Linked DNA regions of Homo sapiens. The protein of the gene in region 2 purifies or fractionates together with the protein of the main gene of each other region. This does not show direct contact. Each region holds a gene or a part of one and is shown on either strand. Other genes may lie near its edges.

What was found.
Region 1: the proteins of NTRK1 (region 2) and USP48 purify together in Homo sapiens (affinity purification with mass spectrometry; 2 studies listed by BioGRID). This does not show direct contact.

Annotation. Positions count from the first base shown.
Region 1 is NC_000001.11:21,703,108-21,710,471, reverse strand, and holds part of USP48 (ubiquitin carboxyl-terminal hydrolase 48), read left to right. Parts: intron 1-3,603; coding exon 3,604-3,728; intron 3,729-3,882; coding exon 3,883-4,005; intron 4,006-4,284; coding exon 4,285-4,346; intron 4,347-4,634; coding exon 4,635-4,745; intron 4,746-6,079; coding exon 6,080-6,210; intron 6,211-6,853; coding exon 6,854-6,960; intron 6,961-7,364.
Region 2 is NC_000001.11:156,870,865-156,877,864, forward strand, and holds part of NTRK1 (high affinity nerve growth factor receptor isoform 2 precursor), read left to right. Parts: intron 1-758; coding exon 759-891; intron 892-2,768; coding exon 2,769-3,095; intron 3,096-3,518; coding exon 3,519-3,536; intron 3,537-3,706; coding exon 3,707-3,762; intron 3,763-4,041; coding exon 4,042-4,144; intron 4,145-4,655; coding exon 4,656-4,802; intron 4,803-5,215; coding exon 5,216-5,346; intron 5,347-5,535; coding exon 5,536-5,708; intron 5,709-7,000. UniProt on the Homo sapiens protein: Receptor tyrosine kinase involved in the development and the maturation of the central and peripheral nervous systems through regulation of proliferation, differentiation and survival of sympathetic and nervous neurons.

The DNA of each region.
Region 1 (7,364 bases), about 140 Mb from region 2:
AGCTTACCTTGTTTATTACACCTAGTTTGCTTAGACGATGGGCTGTGTTTTGTTTTGTTATTTTGAAAGTACTTCTTGAGATGTCCTGAGGCCCAAAGTATTATATACAGTTTGAACTAGATTGAGGGTGAGGGGTTGAGGGTCATTTATCCAGTATCTAAATTCATTGTTAACTAGATTTCTCTTTTTACCAAAGAATCTTTGAGTTTTAGATATTCTAGTTATGTTTACTGAATTGAATCTCTCTTGACTGCTTTGATCTTGTTTTGGGAGGTATTGCTCATAGAATGGATTTAGTTGATTGGCTTTCTCTTAAAATTTAAGAAATAACATGTTTCATTGCAGGATACAAGTTTAATTTCTAACAATTTATGTGTCCCAGTGAAAAGAGCAACCCAAATTTATTTAACTATTTTGAGGTCATAGACAATATTCAAGTATATTTACTTCATTATCATTCATTACATTAATTTAATTAATTGTATTAATATTCATAGTTAATATTAATGATATATTAACAACTACTATGGTAGTAATTATTAGAATAATAGGAAATTATATTTAGAAACTCAGCTAACAAGTAGAGTGAAGGACTATATATTTTTATTACCAACTAGACTACAGTAAAATGACTATTTAATATTATTCTGATCTCAGAAATGAATTTGGGTTGTTCTTTCCTTGTCATATGAAAAACACTCATCCCACTTAAAAGCCAGTCACTACCTAAAAGTACCCCCACATCAGAATGAAGCCGTGCACCCACAGTGTCTGTGGTCTCCTCTGCTCATTTAATAGTAAAGTTTGTGTGTGCATTCCCATTATTGTTTCCTCATAACCACATGGGGTTATACCACACACAAAGAAGCTCTCTTTTTTTTTTTTTAAAGCATAAAAAGGAAACCATTTAAATATTGTAGTTGCCGTGGAGTTCTTTCCAAATCAGGTCATGGAAATCTACCTTAATCTTTTTTATGGTTACGTTGTATTTCACATAAGGACTTACTAAGTTAAGGTTTGATAATCCAATTAACCTTTTTCTTTCATTTTTAAAAATAAATTCCCTAATTGTGTCTGAGGATGGGCACGTTAGAATAAGTTTTCATAGACTCACGGGAAATTTAAATTAACAGCCCACCCAGAAGGAAATACATGTTTACATTCTGACCCCATTTCTCTGGTAACAAGTCTGTTAAAGCAAAATAATCTTTTGGGGATTATTCAAAGATCCAGAAGAGGTGAGGGGTAGAAGTTAAGTTGCATTCTGAGGTATTATAAATTATAGGGACCAGGCATAGTGGCTCATGCTTATAATCCCAGCATTTCTGGAGGCTGAGGTAGGACGGTTGCTTAAAACCAGAAGTTCGAGAGACTCCCTCTCTACAAAATAAAATATTAGGCGGGCATGGTGGCTCATGCCTGTTAGCCAGACTACTCAGGAGGCTAAGGCAGGAGGATCGCTTGAGCCCAGGAGGTCGAGGCTGCAGTGAGCTATGATCGTGCCACTGTACTCCAGCCCAGGGGACAGAATGAGACTCTGTTTTCTTTTCTTTTCTTTTCTTTTCTTTCTTTTTTTTTTTTTTTTTTGAGACGGAGTCTTGCTCTGTCACCCAGGCTGGATTACAATGGTGCGATCTTGGCTCACTGCAACCTCTGCCTCCCGGGTTCAAGCGATTCTCCTGCCTCAGCCTCCCATGTAGCTGCAATTACAGGTGCACACCACCACTCCCGGCCAATTTGTTTTGTATTTTTAGTAGAGACAGGGTTTCACCATTTTGGTCAAGCTGGTCTTGAACTCCTGACCTTGTGATCCACTCACCTCAGCCTCCTAAAGTGCTGGGATTACAGGCGTGAGCCACTGCCCCCGGCCTGTTTTCTATTAAATAAATAAATAAATTTTAAAATATATTATGGGGTTCGAATGAGCTATAGACCTGGGTTTGTTTGTTTGTTTGTTTGTTTGTTTTTGTTTTTTGAGACAGAGTCTTGCTCCTCGCCCAGGCTGGAGTGGAATGGCACAATCTTGGCTCACTGCAACCTCTGCCTCTTGCATTCAAACGATTCTTCTGCCTCAGCCTCCTGAGTAGCTGAGATTACAGGTGCCTGCCACACACCTGGCTAATTTTTGTATTTTGAGTAGAGACGGGGTTTCGCCATGTTGGCCAGGCTGGTTTCAAACTCCTGACCTCGTGATCTGCTCCCCTCAGCCTCCCAAAGTGCTGGGCTTACAAGTGTGAACCACCAAGCCCAGCCTCAGACCTAGTTTTGTTTTGTTTGTTTTGTTTTGTGTTGTTTTGTTTTGTTTTTTTGAGATGGCGTCTCTCTCTGTTGCCCAGGCCAGAGTGCAATGGTGGTTATCTTGGCTCACTGCCACCTCTGCCTCCTAGGCTCAAGGAGTCCTCTTGCCTCAGCCTCTGGAGTAGCTGGGACTACAGGCAAGCACCACCATACCTGGCTGATGTTGGTATTTTTAGTAGACGCAGGGTTTCATCATGTTGGCCAGGCTGGTCTCAAACTCCTGACAAGTGATCCACCTGCTTCAGCCTCCGAAAGTGCTGGGGATTACAGGAGCAAGCCTCTGTGCCTGGCCTATAGACCTGGTTTCGTATCCCAGCTTTATTACTCACTAGCTGTACTCTGCCTGGTTATATTCATCTTTCTAAATTCATTTATTATGGAAAGTGTAGTATGTATTTAGAAAGCTCATGGCTTTATTACTCTTAATAAATCTGTAGGTACCTTGCCAATGGGTGCAGAAACAAACATATGACTTTAGAAATTTAAAGATAGTTTTCTGGGTAATGACCGATATGGGTAGATAAGTGAAGTTCACTAACTTACTGCTTGGGAACAGCTGAAACAACAGTAAGTATAACCACAAGTAGAGCCAGAGGAGAAAGGTCCTGGCAGGGTGGCGGTGACTAGTATTATTTTTTTATATCTTCTGGGATTTTTGAAGATTGAAGGGGATCTTCAAAATAAATTGCAAATAGCAAAGAAGTTGGTGCTTGACTGGAGATGGTTTTCAGATTGAGCAGTAGATTGCTTTATCTTCTGTTTGAATTGATAACTTTGAATTGATAACTTAAGGCAGTGGTCTTGTGATGGCTGGACACAGCTTACAAAATATTATTTTAATGCAGTGTGATTTCAAGATTAGTCAAATGGGAGGCAATAAAGTCTGCAGGAAATGATAACCTTTGAGTGTGGGAGTAGATGTAATTTTGTTAAGCAGCGCTTGCCATGGCACAGAGGTCCCAGGACTCCTGGAATCCCATTTTTGACTACTTCCTTCCTTGCAAGGAGAAAGAAAATGCACGGTTTTAGCTTTGTACGTTTGTTTTTATCTCATGATTTTTTTTTCAATCACAGACCTAGATTAAGGACGTAAAATTGAGGTTAATGGCTACCTCCTTTAGAATTAAAATGAAATCGGAAATTCAGAAGTTTTTGAAAACAAGAAAAGAGAGCTAGAAATACCAAACTTTAGCAAAGCAAGAAAAGCGTACCTGTGGATTTTTCTTAAGTTTAAGAAATAGGAAATAGATAATGACTTTTTTTCAGCTGTTTTTTTTTTTTCCAAATATATTTTTTTAAACTCAGGTGAGTTATGCATATCTGAAAATGAAAGAAGGCTTGTTTCTAAAGAGGCTTGGAGCAAACTGCAGCAGTACTTTCCAAAGGCTCCTGAGTTTCCAAGTTACAAAGAGTGCTGTTCACAGTGCAAGGTACTGAACGCTACTGACATCTGGGGAAATGGCATGCCACCTCCCTGGGTTGACTTCCCAGGGGAATTAACACTGTACTTCTGACGGGGGTGTAGGGAGGAGGCAGGTCATGTGCTGTCAGCAGGAGACAGTTGATTGCTTCATTCTCTTTCAGATTTTAGAAAGAGAAGGGGAAGAAAATGAAGCCTTACATAAGATGATTGCAAACGAGCAAAAGACTTCTCTCCCAAATTTGTTCCAGGATAAAAACAGACCGTGTCTCAGTAACTGGCCAGAGGTATAATGATTCCCACAAAAGAAAGAATGCATCTTTTCTTTTTAAAGCCCTTGCCAAATTCCCAGTGAGCTATTTCAGAACAACCCAGAACTTCTCATATTCTCATTTGTTTAGTTATCTAACCAGGGGATTTACTCCAGCCTGCTATTTTTTGGTAGAGGACTGTGTTTTCATTTTATTTATAAAACTTGAATAAGGACAACCAAAGTATATTATAAGGAATTTGTGTTAAGCAGGCGGTGAATTGACGGATACTGTTTTGTGATTTTTGTGTTCTAGGATACGGATGTCCTCTACATCGTGTCTCAGTTCTTTGTAGAAGAGTGGCGGAAATTTGTTAGGTAGAAACAAAATATGTTTTATTTCCTTTATTGTTACTGATTTGGTTGACTCTGGTATTTTTTAAGATATCGTGGATTCTGTTTGTTGTACCCTTCCTTCATGGTTACTTTCACCAGCATACACTGAAAGCTTTCTTTTCTATTAATTAAATGAATAAGCCTAAGAAACACATTGAATTACTAATATTTTCTTAAATATATCTCTGATTTTGAAATAATTATTTTAAAATCTTCTCTTTCGTCATGCAGTAATTAGGTATATTTCTCCTCCTTGTCTCATTTGAGTAGAAAGCCTACAAGATGCAGCCCTGTGTCATCAGTTGGGAACAGTGCTCTTTTGTGTCCCCACGGGGGCCTCATGTTTACATTTGCTTCCATGACCAAAGAAGATTCTAAACTGTGAGTTCCTTCTCTTCATGTGATTTTTTTTTCTTCTTTTCTCTTTTTGATGATTAATAAAATATGTTTAGGAAATTTCTCATCTGACATAGTCTGTTTTAAGAATTTAGTCCTTTGCTGAATTGTGGGGTTTTTTTTTCCCCTTTTAAAAGAGAAGAAGACTGCTTCTCCAGGAAAGACAAGAGGCTGCCCGAGGCTATTTGTCTTTTTGCTCTTTCCTTGTCCCTCTTGAAGACAACACAGCCACCCTTTCTCTTCCCCCGCTGCTGGTGACCAGTGCTGAGACCTCTTTTCCAGAATCACAGAATCAACATGGTCTTGGTTATAGGTTTTGTTCTGCCATGGCCAGGCTTCAGACAATTAAAGGAGGAGGCTAGCAGGGTGGCAGAGCAAAGCCACTGCACTGGTCATCTGGAATTCTAGGGTCTTAGAACCCAAATTTTATTCCATGCTTCAAGTACTTCCAGAGGTGTTCATCTGTGAATTTCTCCCGATTTTACCAAAAATCGTGATATACGAGAAGGTAGAATGCTTCCAACATTGTCAGAAAATCAGGAAAAGGAAATTGGAACACATAAATAAAAATGCCCTTGGGGTTAAGCTAGAGTTTTATTATTCATATTTCAGTACTTTAACATCATTTAAGGGAGTTCAAAGTTTATATATTCTCTACATTTTCTCCCTCCTCTTTCTCTCCCTCCCTCTCTGCATCCCGCCTTCCCTGTTGCTCTCTCACTCTCGCTGTGCATCTCTCTTCTCTTTCCTCCCTCCCTTTCTTCCTGTCGTTGTTATTGCAAATGTCAGACTTCCAGGAAAATACACCAGTAAGCAAATGTGTGTTACCATTCAGTTTAAAAGTTAAATGGTTCAAATATGATTAAAGGCCCCACAGTGCTTATCCTTCTGTTGCTACTTCTCTTTCTCCCACCCTTCCTCTCACACTAACCACTGTACTGAATTTAGAGTTTATCTGTCTCAGAAAGTATTCTGTAAAAAAAAAAAATGCACGCACATAATGTCTTGCATATTTAAAACTTTTTATATAAATGGCACCATACTGTATTTATACTTCTGCAACTAACTTATTTTACTCAATTATGTTTTTGAGATCTAACCATGTTGATTCATGTAATTTCAGTCCATTTAGTTTCGCTGCTGTGGTAACATTCCTTTGTATGAAAAACTATTCTTTGTTGATGATACGTATCTTTTCTCTCTAATTCCTTTGGATTAAATGTTAGTGTTAATGGTTTTGGTTTAGCAGACTAATGGATTATGTTAATTCTCTTAATTTCCATGTGTCTTAAGGCATGTTGTGTTTTTTTTTTGCACAGTATAGCTCTCATATGGCCCAGTGAGTGGCAAATGATACAAAAGCTCTTTGTTGTGGATCATGTAATTAAAATCACGAGAATTGAAGTGGGAGATGTAAACCCTTCAGAAACACAGTATATTTCTGAGCCCAGTAAGTTTTCATATTGCTTTCGGTTTCTATAGTTAAGAGCTGACATTTTAAGAAGAAAGGGTGTGTCAGTGTTGTCTGCTTAAAGTTAAAGATCATGCGGCGGTCCCAACTCCCTAGGTGGAAACTCTCATTATAATCATCCCATTATTTGTACGTTTATTTATGGACAGTAAATGGATTTCCTTATCATTTGCATGTAATAGAATATAGTGGTTAATAGAAAATATTATTAAGAGTTTGGGCCAGCACACTAGCTCATACCTATAATCCTAATACTTTGAGAGACTAGGGTGGAAGGATTGCTTAAGGCCAGGAGTTTCAGACCAGCCTGAGCAACATAACAAGACCTTCTCTCTACAAAATAATAAAAATGTAGCACATATCTGTAGTCTTGAGCTACTCGCTGAGAGGCTGAGTCAGGAGCATGGCTTGAGCCCAGAAGCTTGAGGCTACAGTGAGCTATGTTCATACCACTGTACCCCAGCCTGGGTGACACAGCAAAACCTTGTCTCAAAAAAAGAAAATGTTACTAAGAGTTTAATGAATATTCACTAGTAACTTTGACATATGTTTTTAGATCTTTGATTCTTTAACAATGATTCCTCAGCCACTTCTGTTTTCCCTTTTTTTTTTTCCCCCAAAGAACTCTGTCCAGAATGCAGAGAAGGCTTATTGTGTCAGCAGCAGAGGGACCTGCGTGAATACACTCAAGCCACCATCTATGTCCATAAAGTTGTGGATAATAAAAAGGTACTGGTCCCTCTTGTGGCAATGACTAGTAATGATCAAGCGTGCTCTTTGGCTTGATTTGCTGTTGTATTTGCACTGAGGGTCTGCCTAGGACTGCATTTTTGTTCCTTCAGAGCTGTTTGGCATCAGAATTGAAATTGGACAATAATTGAAAATGAACAGTTATGTGATTATATGAGAATTTAGTTTGTTATTAATTGATGCATAGATATTTACTGAATGTCAGCTGTGTTCCAGGAATGGTCCAGGTGCTGGGGATACAGTGATAAAGAAGGCAGGTATAATACCTTCTCTCAAAATTATAGGCACCTAGTGAGGAAGATCAGGAATAAAGTATAAATTCATATGATTTCACACAGAAATGATTGTTTTGAAGGAACTTTAGCAGGGTCAAGTGGAGGTTA
Region 2 (7,000 bases):
TCCACGGTTTCCTAGGAAGAGAAACTTGATCTGATTCAATCCTGACGATGATTCAGAATCAAGTCACTTTGCCTGTCTAACCTCACCCATGGTCCTCATCTGCTGCAGGAGGCGATGCCGCTGCTGTTGTTTCTAACTGCTGCTGTGCTATTTGCACCATCTCTTTGTTTCTGATCTTCCTTGGGCTGAGACTCAGTTTGTTAGAACTGTGTGTAAAACAGGAATGAATAGGCAGTGAGGTCCTAGTGGGGTCTCCAACGAGCTGTGTACAAATTTGGTACTTGGGATGCGTGACATCTGTTTAGCTGCTCAGATGGCTGGTTTTAGTTTCAGTTTGGGATATTTTGTGCCTATTTTGAGGCTACTGGTTAGATTTTAGATTTTTCAGATAATTAAATACGTGATCCAGGCTGGGCGCAGTGGCTCACGCCTGTAATCCCAATACTTTGGGAGGCCGAGGTGAGAGGATTGCTTGAGGCCCTGTTCAAGACCAGCCTGGGCAGGACAGTAAGACCCCGTCGCTACAAAAATAAAACATAAAATAAAAAAAAAATGTGATCCAGGAGATAGTCAACGAACAAACCTAAAGGAGGAAGGCCATTATCTGCTACATTCTCTCCCACCCCTCTCTCCCTTCTCTTCCCTCCCAGCCCTCCTCTCCTTTCCATCTGGAGCCAGAGGGGCTCTCCAAAGACTTCAGCCCCAGCCCCAAGCTGGCTAAAGCTCCTTCTTATTCCCCCCTCTCTTTCCTGATCTAGAAATCTGGGGGTCTGCCATCCCTGGGGCTGACCCTGGCCAATGTCACCAGTGACCTCAACAGGAAGAACGTGACGTGCTGGGCAGAGAACGATGTGGGCCGGGCAGAGGTCTCTGTTCAGGTCAACGTCTCCTGTGAGTCTCAGTGGCAGCTCCGGCACCCACCCCCTACTCATCTCTTCTTCCCTCAAAAGAGGATGTAGGGTGGGGGGCTGGAAGAAAGGGTGGGATGTGTGTCTCCACAGCTGCTCCCTCCCAGCTGTTTCCAGATTCCCATGAAAACCTGATCCTTTGGGGGAAGTCCTGGGGTCTTGTCAAGGCCAGAGGGATGGAGATGGATTTCTTTCTGGCCCCCTGCCCGAGCCTTGCTACCTGAGGCCCTCAACGCCAGATGCCCGGCTGTTCCCACTGCTCCGAAGTATTTTTTCATGCCCGTCCCTCATCGGGTCCTTCTCCCCGCATCCTAGTTTCAAAAGAGGAAATTCTCCTCCTGAGTTCCTCTTTACGCTCGCTGCCTAATTTCTCTAGATCAGCCAACAAATTATCTTAAATATTCTACTTTACATCAGTTTTCTTCTTTTATTGTGAAATATACATAGAAATGTGCAAAAAATATATATATTTTAAACAATAATTACTCTTACCAGCATCACGGAAGATCCCCCACCACCCAACACCTCTCCCTGTTCGCAATCCCATCCCACTCTCCCATCTCATGTTGACTTTTGTCAGGATAACCATTTCCTTGCTTTTAAAAATAATTTTTCTCAAATATGCTTTCCTATCGGTATCATTTAGTTTTGCCTGTTCTTGTACATTATATAAATGGAATCATACTGCGTGTATTATTTTGTATCTGGTTTCTTTCATTCAACATTATATTTATAAGATTCATTCATGTTAATGGGAGTTGCTATATGTAGCTCATGCAATTCATTGCTAAATAGTATTCCTATGTATGAATGCTATATTATATATATATATACATATATTTATGCATACATACACTTTTTTTCTATCATTGAGGGGCTTTTACTTTTACCAGATTGGGTCTATTTCTTTTTTTTTTTTTTGAGATGGAGTCTCGCTCTGTCACCCAGGCTGGAGTGCAGTGGCGCGCTCTCGGCTCACTTCAAGCTCCGCCTCCCAGGTTCACGTCATTCTCCTGCTTCAGCCTCCTGAGTATCTGGGACTACAGGCGCCCTCCACCACGCCCAGCTAATTTTTTGTATTTTTTTAGTGGAGACGGGGTTTCACCGTGTTAGCCAGGATGGTCTCGATCTCCTGACCTCGTGATCCGCCCGCCTCGGCCTCCCAAAGTATTGGAATTACAGGCGTGAGCCACCGCGCCTGGCCCAGATTGGGTCTATTTCAAACGCATATCTTTTTTCAAAAAGAGTGTGTGTGTGTGTGTGTGTGTGTGTGTGTGTGTGTGTGTGTGTTTGAAGAGATGGGGTCTCAGCCTGTTGCCCAGGCTGGAATGCTTTGGGATCATAACTCACTGCAGCCTTGAACTCCTGGCCTCAAGCGATCCTCCCACCTCAGCCCCCTGAGTAGCTGGGATTACAGGAGCAAGTCACTGTGCCTGGCTTTTCCCCAAAAATTTAACTGTATATATTTTTGGCTGGTTTGATTGTTAGGGCCCCTGACCCATCTTCTTCAGCTTGGTTACACTGACTTCTTCTAGATTCCTTATCCCAAAGACTCCATGTTTAATTGTCATAAGCTGATACCCCACTCCTGTGGGGCTGTGACTTATTTATGGCCCACCACTTATGTTCTTTAAGCCTCTAAATTTTATATGCCTGCTGCCTGATTTATTTAAAATGTATTGTCAACTTTCTTCAAAACATCTCTCCTTGGTGAATTTCCCAGGGCCTGCTGACCTGTTTCTCCCAGGCCTGCCCTTTGATTTCGGGTTCTACTCGCTTTGCCCGTGGACTTGTCGGGTGTGTGCCAGGCTCCCTCCAGCTGCGCCCTGACCTCCTGCTGTTGCTCTTTCTGGCCCACAGTCCCGGCCAGTGTGCAGCTGCACACGGCGGTGGAGATGCACCACTGGTGCATCCCCTTCTCTGTGGATGGGCAGCCGGCACCGTCTCTGCGCTGGCTCTTCAATGGCTCCGTGCTCAATGAGACCAGCTTCATCTTCACTGAGTTCCTGGAGCCGGCAGCCAATGAGACCGTGCGGCACGGGTGTCTGCGCCTCAACCAGCCCACCCACGTCAACAACGGCAACTACACGCTGCTGGCTGCCAACCCCTTCGGCCAGGCCTCCGCCTCCATCATGGCTGCCTTCATGGACAACCCTTTCGAGTTCAACCCCGAGGACCCCATCCCTGGTGCGAGGGCCATCCTGAACCCTGCCCCCACTCCTGGGCTCCTCCTGGGTTACAGCCAACTTCCTGCTATAGCCCTGACCCCAGAAATTGGAGTGCCTGGTTCGGGACAGAAAGGAGTCTGGAGTCCTGGTGTCCCGCTGTTCTGGCCTCCTTACCCTCTCCCCAAGCCAGGACTCCTGAACTCCTGAGCTATTCCGTCCTTGTCGGCTGGCTGAGGAGACAGCCATGCAGCAGGGCATCCTGGCCCAGCTGGAAAAGGGTCACATGCATCTTCTTCCTTGAGGCCCAGCAGCCCACCTCCATCCCCCCTCGTCCCATGAAGGAATGAGTCCCAGAGTAGGCAGGGGACTCACTGCTTTCCTCCTCCCTCTGACTGCTTTCTCTCCTCCCTCTGACTGCTTTCTCTCCTCCCTCCTGCTGCAGTCTCCTTCTCGCCGGTGGGTGAGTAGCCCAAGGTGGAGGGCAGGTTCTGCCTGGTCTCTGGAGCTGAGGCTGGGGCAGAGGGTACAGCTGAACTGATCCCTGAGAGACCAGCTGGGGCCAGGGTTGGGGGGTTACTGGAGGCTACAGTGTGTGTCAAGGCTCACCCCTCCTGCCCTGTGTCCCTACAGACACTAACAGCACATCTGGAGACCCGGTGGAGAAGAAGGACGAAACACCTTTTGGGGTGAGATAGGAAGTAGAAGCTTGTGCAGACTTTGGGACCGGGAGGCTGGGTAGAGGCTCATCTGCATGTCATTTCTGGTCAGAGCAGGGAGATCACTACCATCTGGCCTGAGCTCTGACGGCCACCCGCACAGCCACTGCAGGGGTCCCCAGGGGAGGATGAGGCAGGTCTGGAGACCTGGCTCCGGGCTCCCATGCAGGATGAAAAAATGGCTTACTACAGGAGGCTCTGAGAGTACAGGAGGAGCCCCTGGATCTAACTACCCCTGTCCCCCACCAGGTCTCGGTGGCTGTGGGCCTGGCCGTCTTTGCCTGCCTCTTCCTTTCTACGCTGCTCCTTGTGCTCAACAAATGTGGACGGAGAAACAAGTTTGGGATCAACCGTGAGTCGGGGCTGCAGAGGGCTGTCTGTCTGTCTGTTCTCCTGGCTTTGTTTCCTACTGGCTCTTCCTGACTCTGTCTCTGGGGGGCTGTGCACATGGGAGTTCCAGGGCGTGTGAGTGTGTTTGGGGTATAAATGAAGGCCTGGCTGTGAGGCTTGTGAGTGTGAGTGTGTGTGGGAGCGTGTGTCGGGCTGGTGCTGGGGTAGTTTCAGAGGCGGCAGCTGCTAATTGGTGGCTGGATTGTAGTCAAGCATTAAGTGGGTCTGGGAGGTCTGGGCTCTGTGGGGGTGGAGGGGGAGTTCTTTGGTGCCCATGGGGCCAGGGGTGGGACAGGAGCCAGCACAGGGAGAGGCGGTGGTGCCCCCTTCCCCCTGCCTGCTGTCTCGCTCCCTAGCTTCTCAGTCTCTCCCCTGCAAGTTACAAGGTGGGGGTGACCAGGCATCCTGCAGGCAAGGGTGGGCAGGGCCAAGGTGTGGGCAAACCCCTCCATGCGGCTGTGTCTCCTCTCTAGGCCCGGCTGTGCTGGCTCCAGAGGATGGGCTGGCCATGTCCCTGCATTTCATGACATTGGGTGGCAGCTCCCTGTCCCCCACCGAGGGCAAAGGCTCTGGGCTCCAAGGCCACATCATCGAGAACCCACAATACTTCAGTGATGCCTGTGAGGGGCTATGCTGGGTCAAGGGCAGGGACGAGTGTGTGTGTGTGTGTGTGTGTGTGTGTGTGTGTGTAGAAGCCCCTAGGCCTGAACGATCCCTCCCTTTCTCCCACCCCTCCCCAGCCCTATTCCAGCCATAGGCCCTGTCATATTCTTCTCAGGCTGAGTCCAGCCTGGCTCTTAGCTGCATCCCCTGCCCAGAGTCACAGCTAGCCCAAACCATGTCCTCTCGGGGCAGGTGCAGCCCCACACTATGACATGGGGCTTGCTGAAGGGGTGCAGGTTGAATTTTAGCCCCCATGCAGTCCCTCGTCTGGGCAGCCTTGTGCAGCACACAGCCCTGCCAAGACAGTCCCCGCTACAACCCCAGCCCTCCCAAGACTGGGGCTACCGTCTGACCCTGCAAGCCCCCTCAGGTGTTCACCACATCAAGCGCCGGGACATCGTGCTCAAGTGGGAGCTGGGGGAGGGCGCCTTTGGGAAGGTCTTCCTTGCTGAGTGCCACAACCTCCTGCCTGAGCAGGACAAGATGCTGGTGGCTGTCAAGGTGAGACCCTGCCCCGGGGGGTACTGCTGGCCTGGGTCCCACCCCCAGGAGCTCCATCACATCAGGACAGAGTGGGGGGAGATGCAGAGGGCTGACATGGCTGGATACCGGGGTGGGCGGGCTGCCCTGGGTGAACAGCAGTGAGGGCTCGGCCCCCAACTCAGTCCTGTCCCTGCCGCTTCCATCCAGGCACTGAAGGAGGCGTCCGAGAGTGCTCGGCAGGACTTCCAGCGTGAGGCTGAGCTGCTCACCATGCTGCAGCACCAGCACATCGTGCGCTTCTTCGGCGTCTGCACCGAGGGCCGCCCCCTGCTCATGGTCTTTGAGTATATGCGGCACGGGGACCTCAACCGCTTCCTCCGGTACCAGCACCTGGCCTCAGCGCTGGCCCCGGCCCCTGGCTCTGGGCCCCGTCTTCCCTTCCCTATAGACATCCCTGCTTGTCTTTCAAACCAAGGGGAGACACCAAGAAAGATCAGGAAGGCACATTCCCGTCCCCAGGGAGCTCTGAGATGGTAGAGGAGGCAGATGTGTGAACATAGGGGTGACTCTTGCAAAGGACAAGTGTCAGTAGTCAGGGAGGTTGCGATGGCAAAGGCCGTGAGCTAAAACTTTGGGGTGGGTGGGCTTTGCAGAGGGTGTATGTGCATTTGTGTGTGGCACACAAAGGCCAGGCCTGTAAGGGTAGCAGTTTAGATAACGACAGTAACAACGACAGTAATGAACATTTATCAGGCACCTTCTATGTTCCAGGTGCTATGTTATATACTTTATAATTTATTATTTTTTATTTTTTAACATGTATTTATTACTGTTATTGTTTTAGAGTTGGGGTCTTGCTCTGTTGCCTAGGCTGGAGTGCAACGGTGTTGCAATAATAGCTCACTGCAGCCTCAAATTCCTGGGCTCAAGCAATTCTCCCGCCTTAGCCTCCCCAGTAGCTGGGACTACAGGTGCACACCATTGCACCTGGCTCTACAATTTGTTCTTATTATGGTTCTATGTGCTGGTACATATATATCTTGTATAGTAATATAAATATGTATTTATTTTTTATGGCCTCCAAGCATATATTGCAATTTACACTTGAAGCAAGTTACAAAAAATTCATTTCTTTGGCTTCGGACAGAACAACTCTGATACATTTATCTATTTGTGCTGATAATTTTAATAACTTCGAGAAATGTGCCTGTTTCACAGATAAGGCTTAGAGAGGTTCAGTGACTTGCCCAAGGGCACACAGGTAGTGAATGGCCCAGGGGTGATGTGGCCCCAGGCAGAGCCCCTACTCTCAGCCCCTGATGTGATGGTCACATGTTCCCTCGGTCTAGTCCTTCTCTGATGAGATCACCCCCGGGAGGATGGGGCAGTGTTTGCAAGGCAGGGAGAAGAGCAGGGTTTGGAATCAGCTGCCACTTATGAGCTGAGCCTTCTTTGCCAAGTAGCTTTCCTCTCTGACCTCACTTTCCTCACCAGTAAGAGGGACAGTGTGGGGGCTGTGGTTCTGGATGAGCAAGCGCTGTATGGTTGTCCAGTTGATGGTCATGATCTGGTCCCCAAACATCCCTTTGGGAGTGATGGGTCATTCATGCAGTCAGGCTGCAGGACTCAGCTAGGAGAGACCCCTGAGTCTTGGGCTTATCCTGTGGACCAG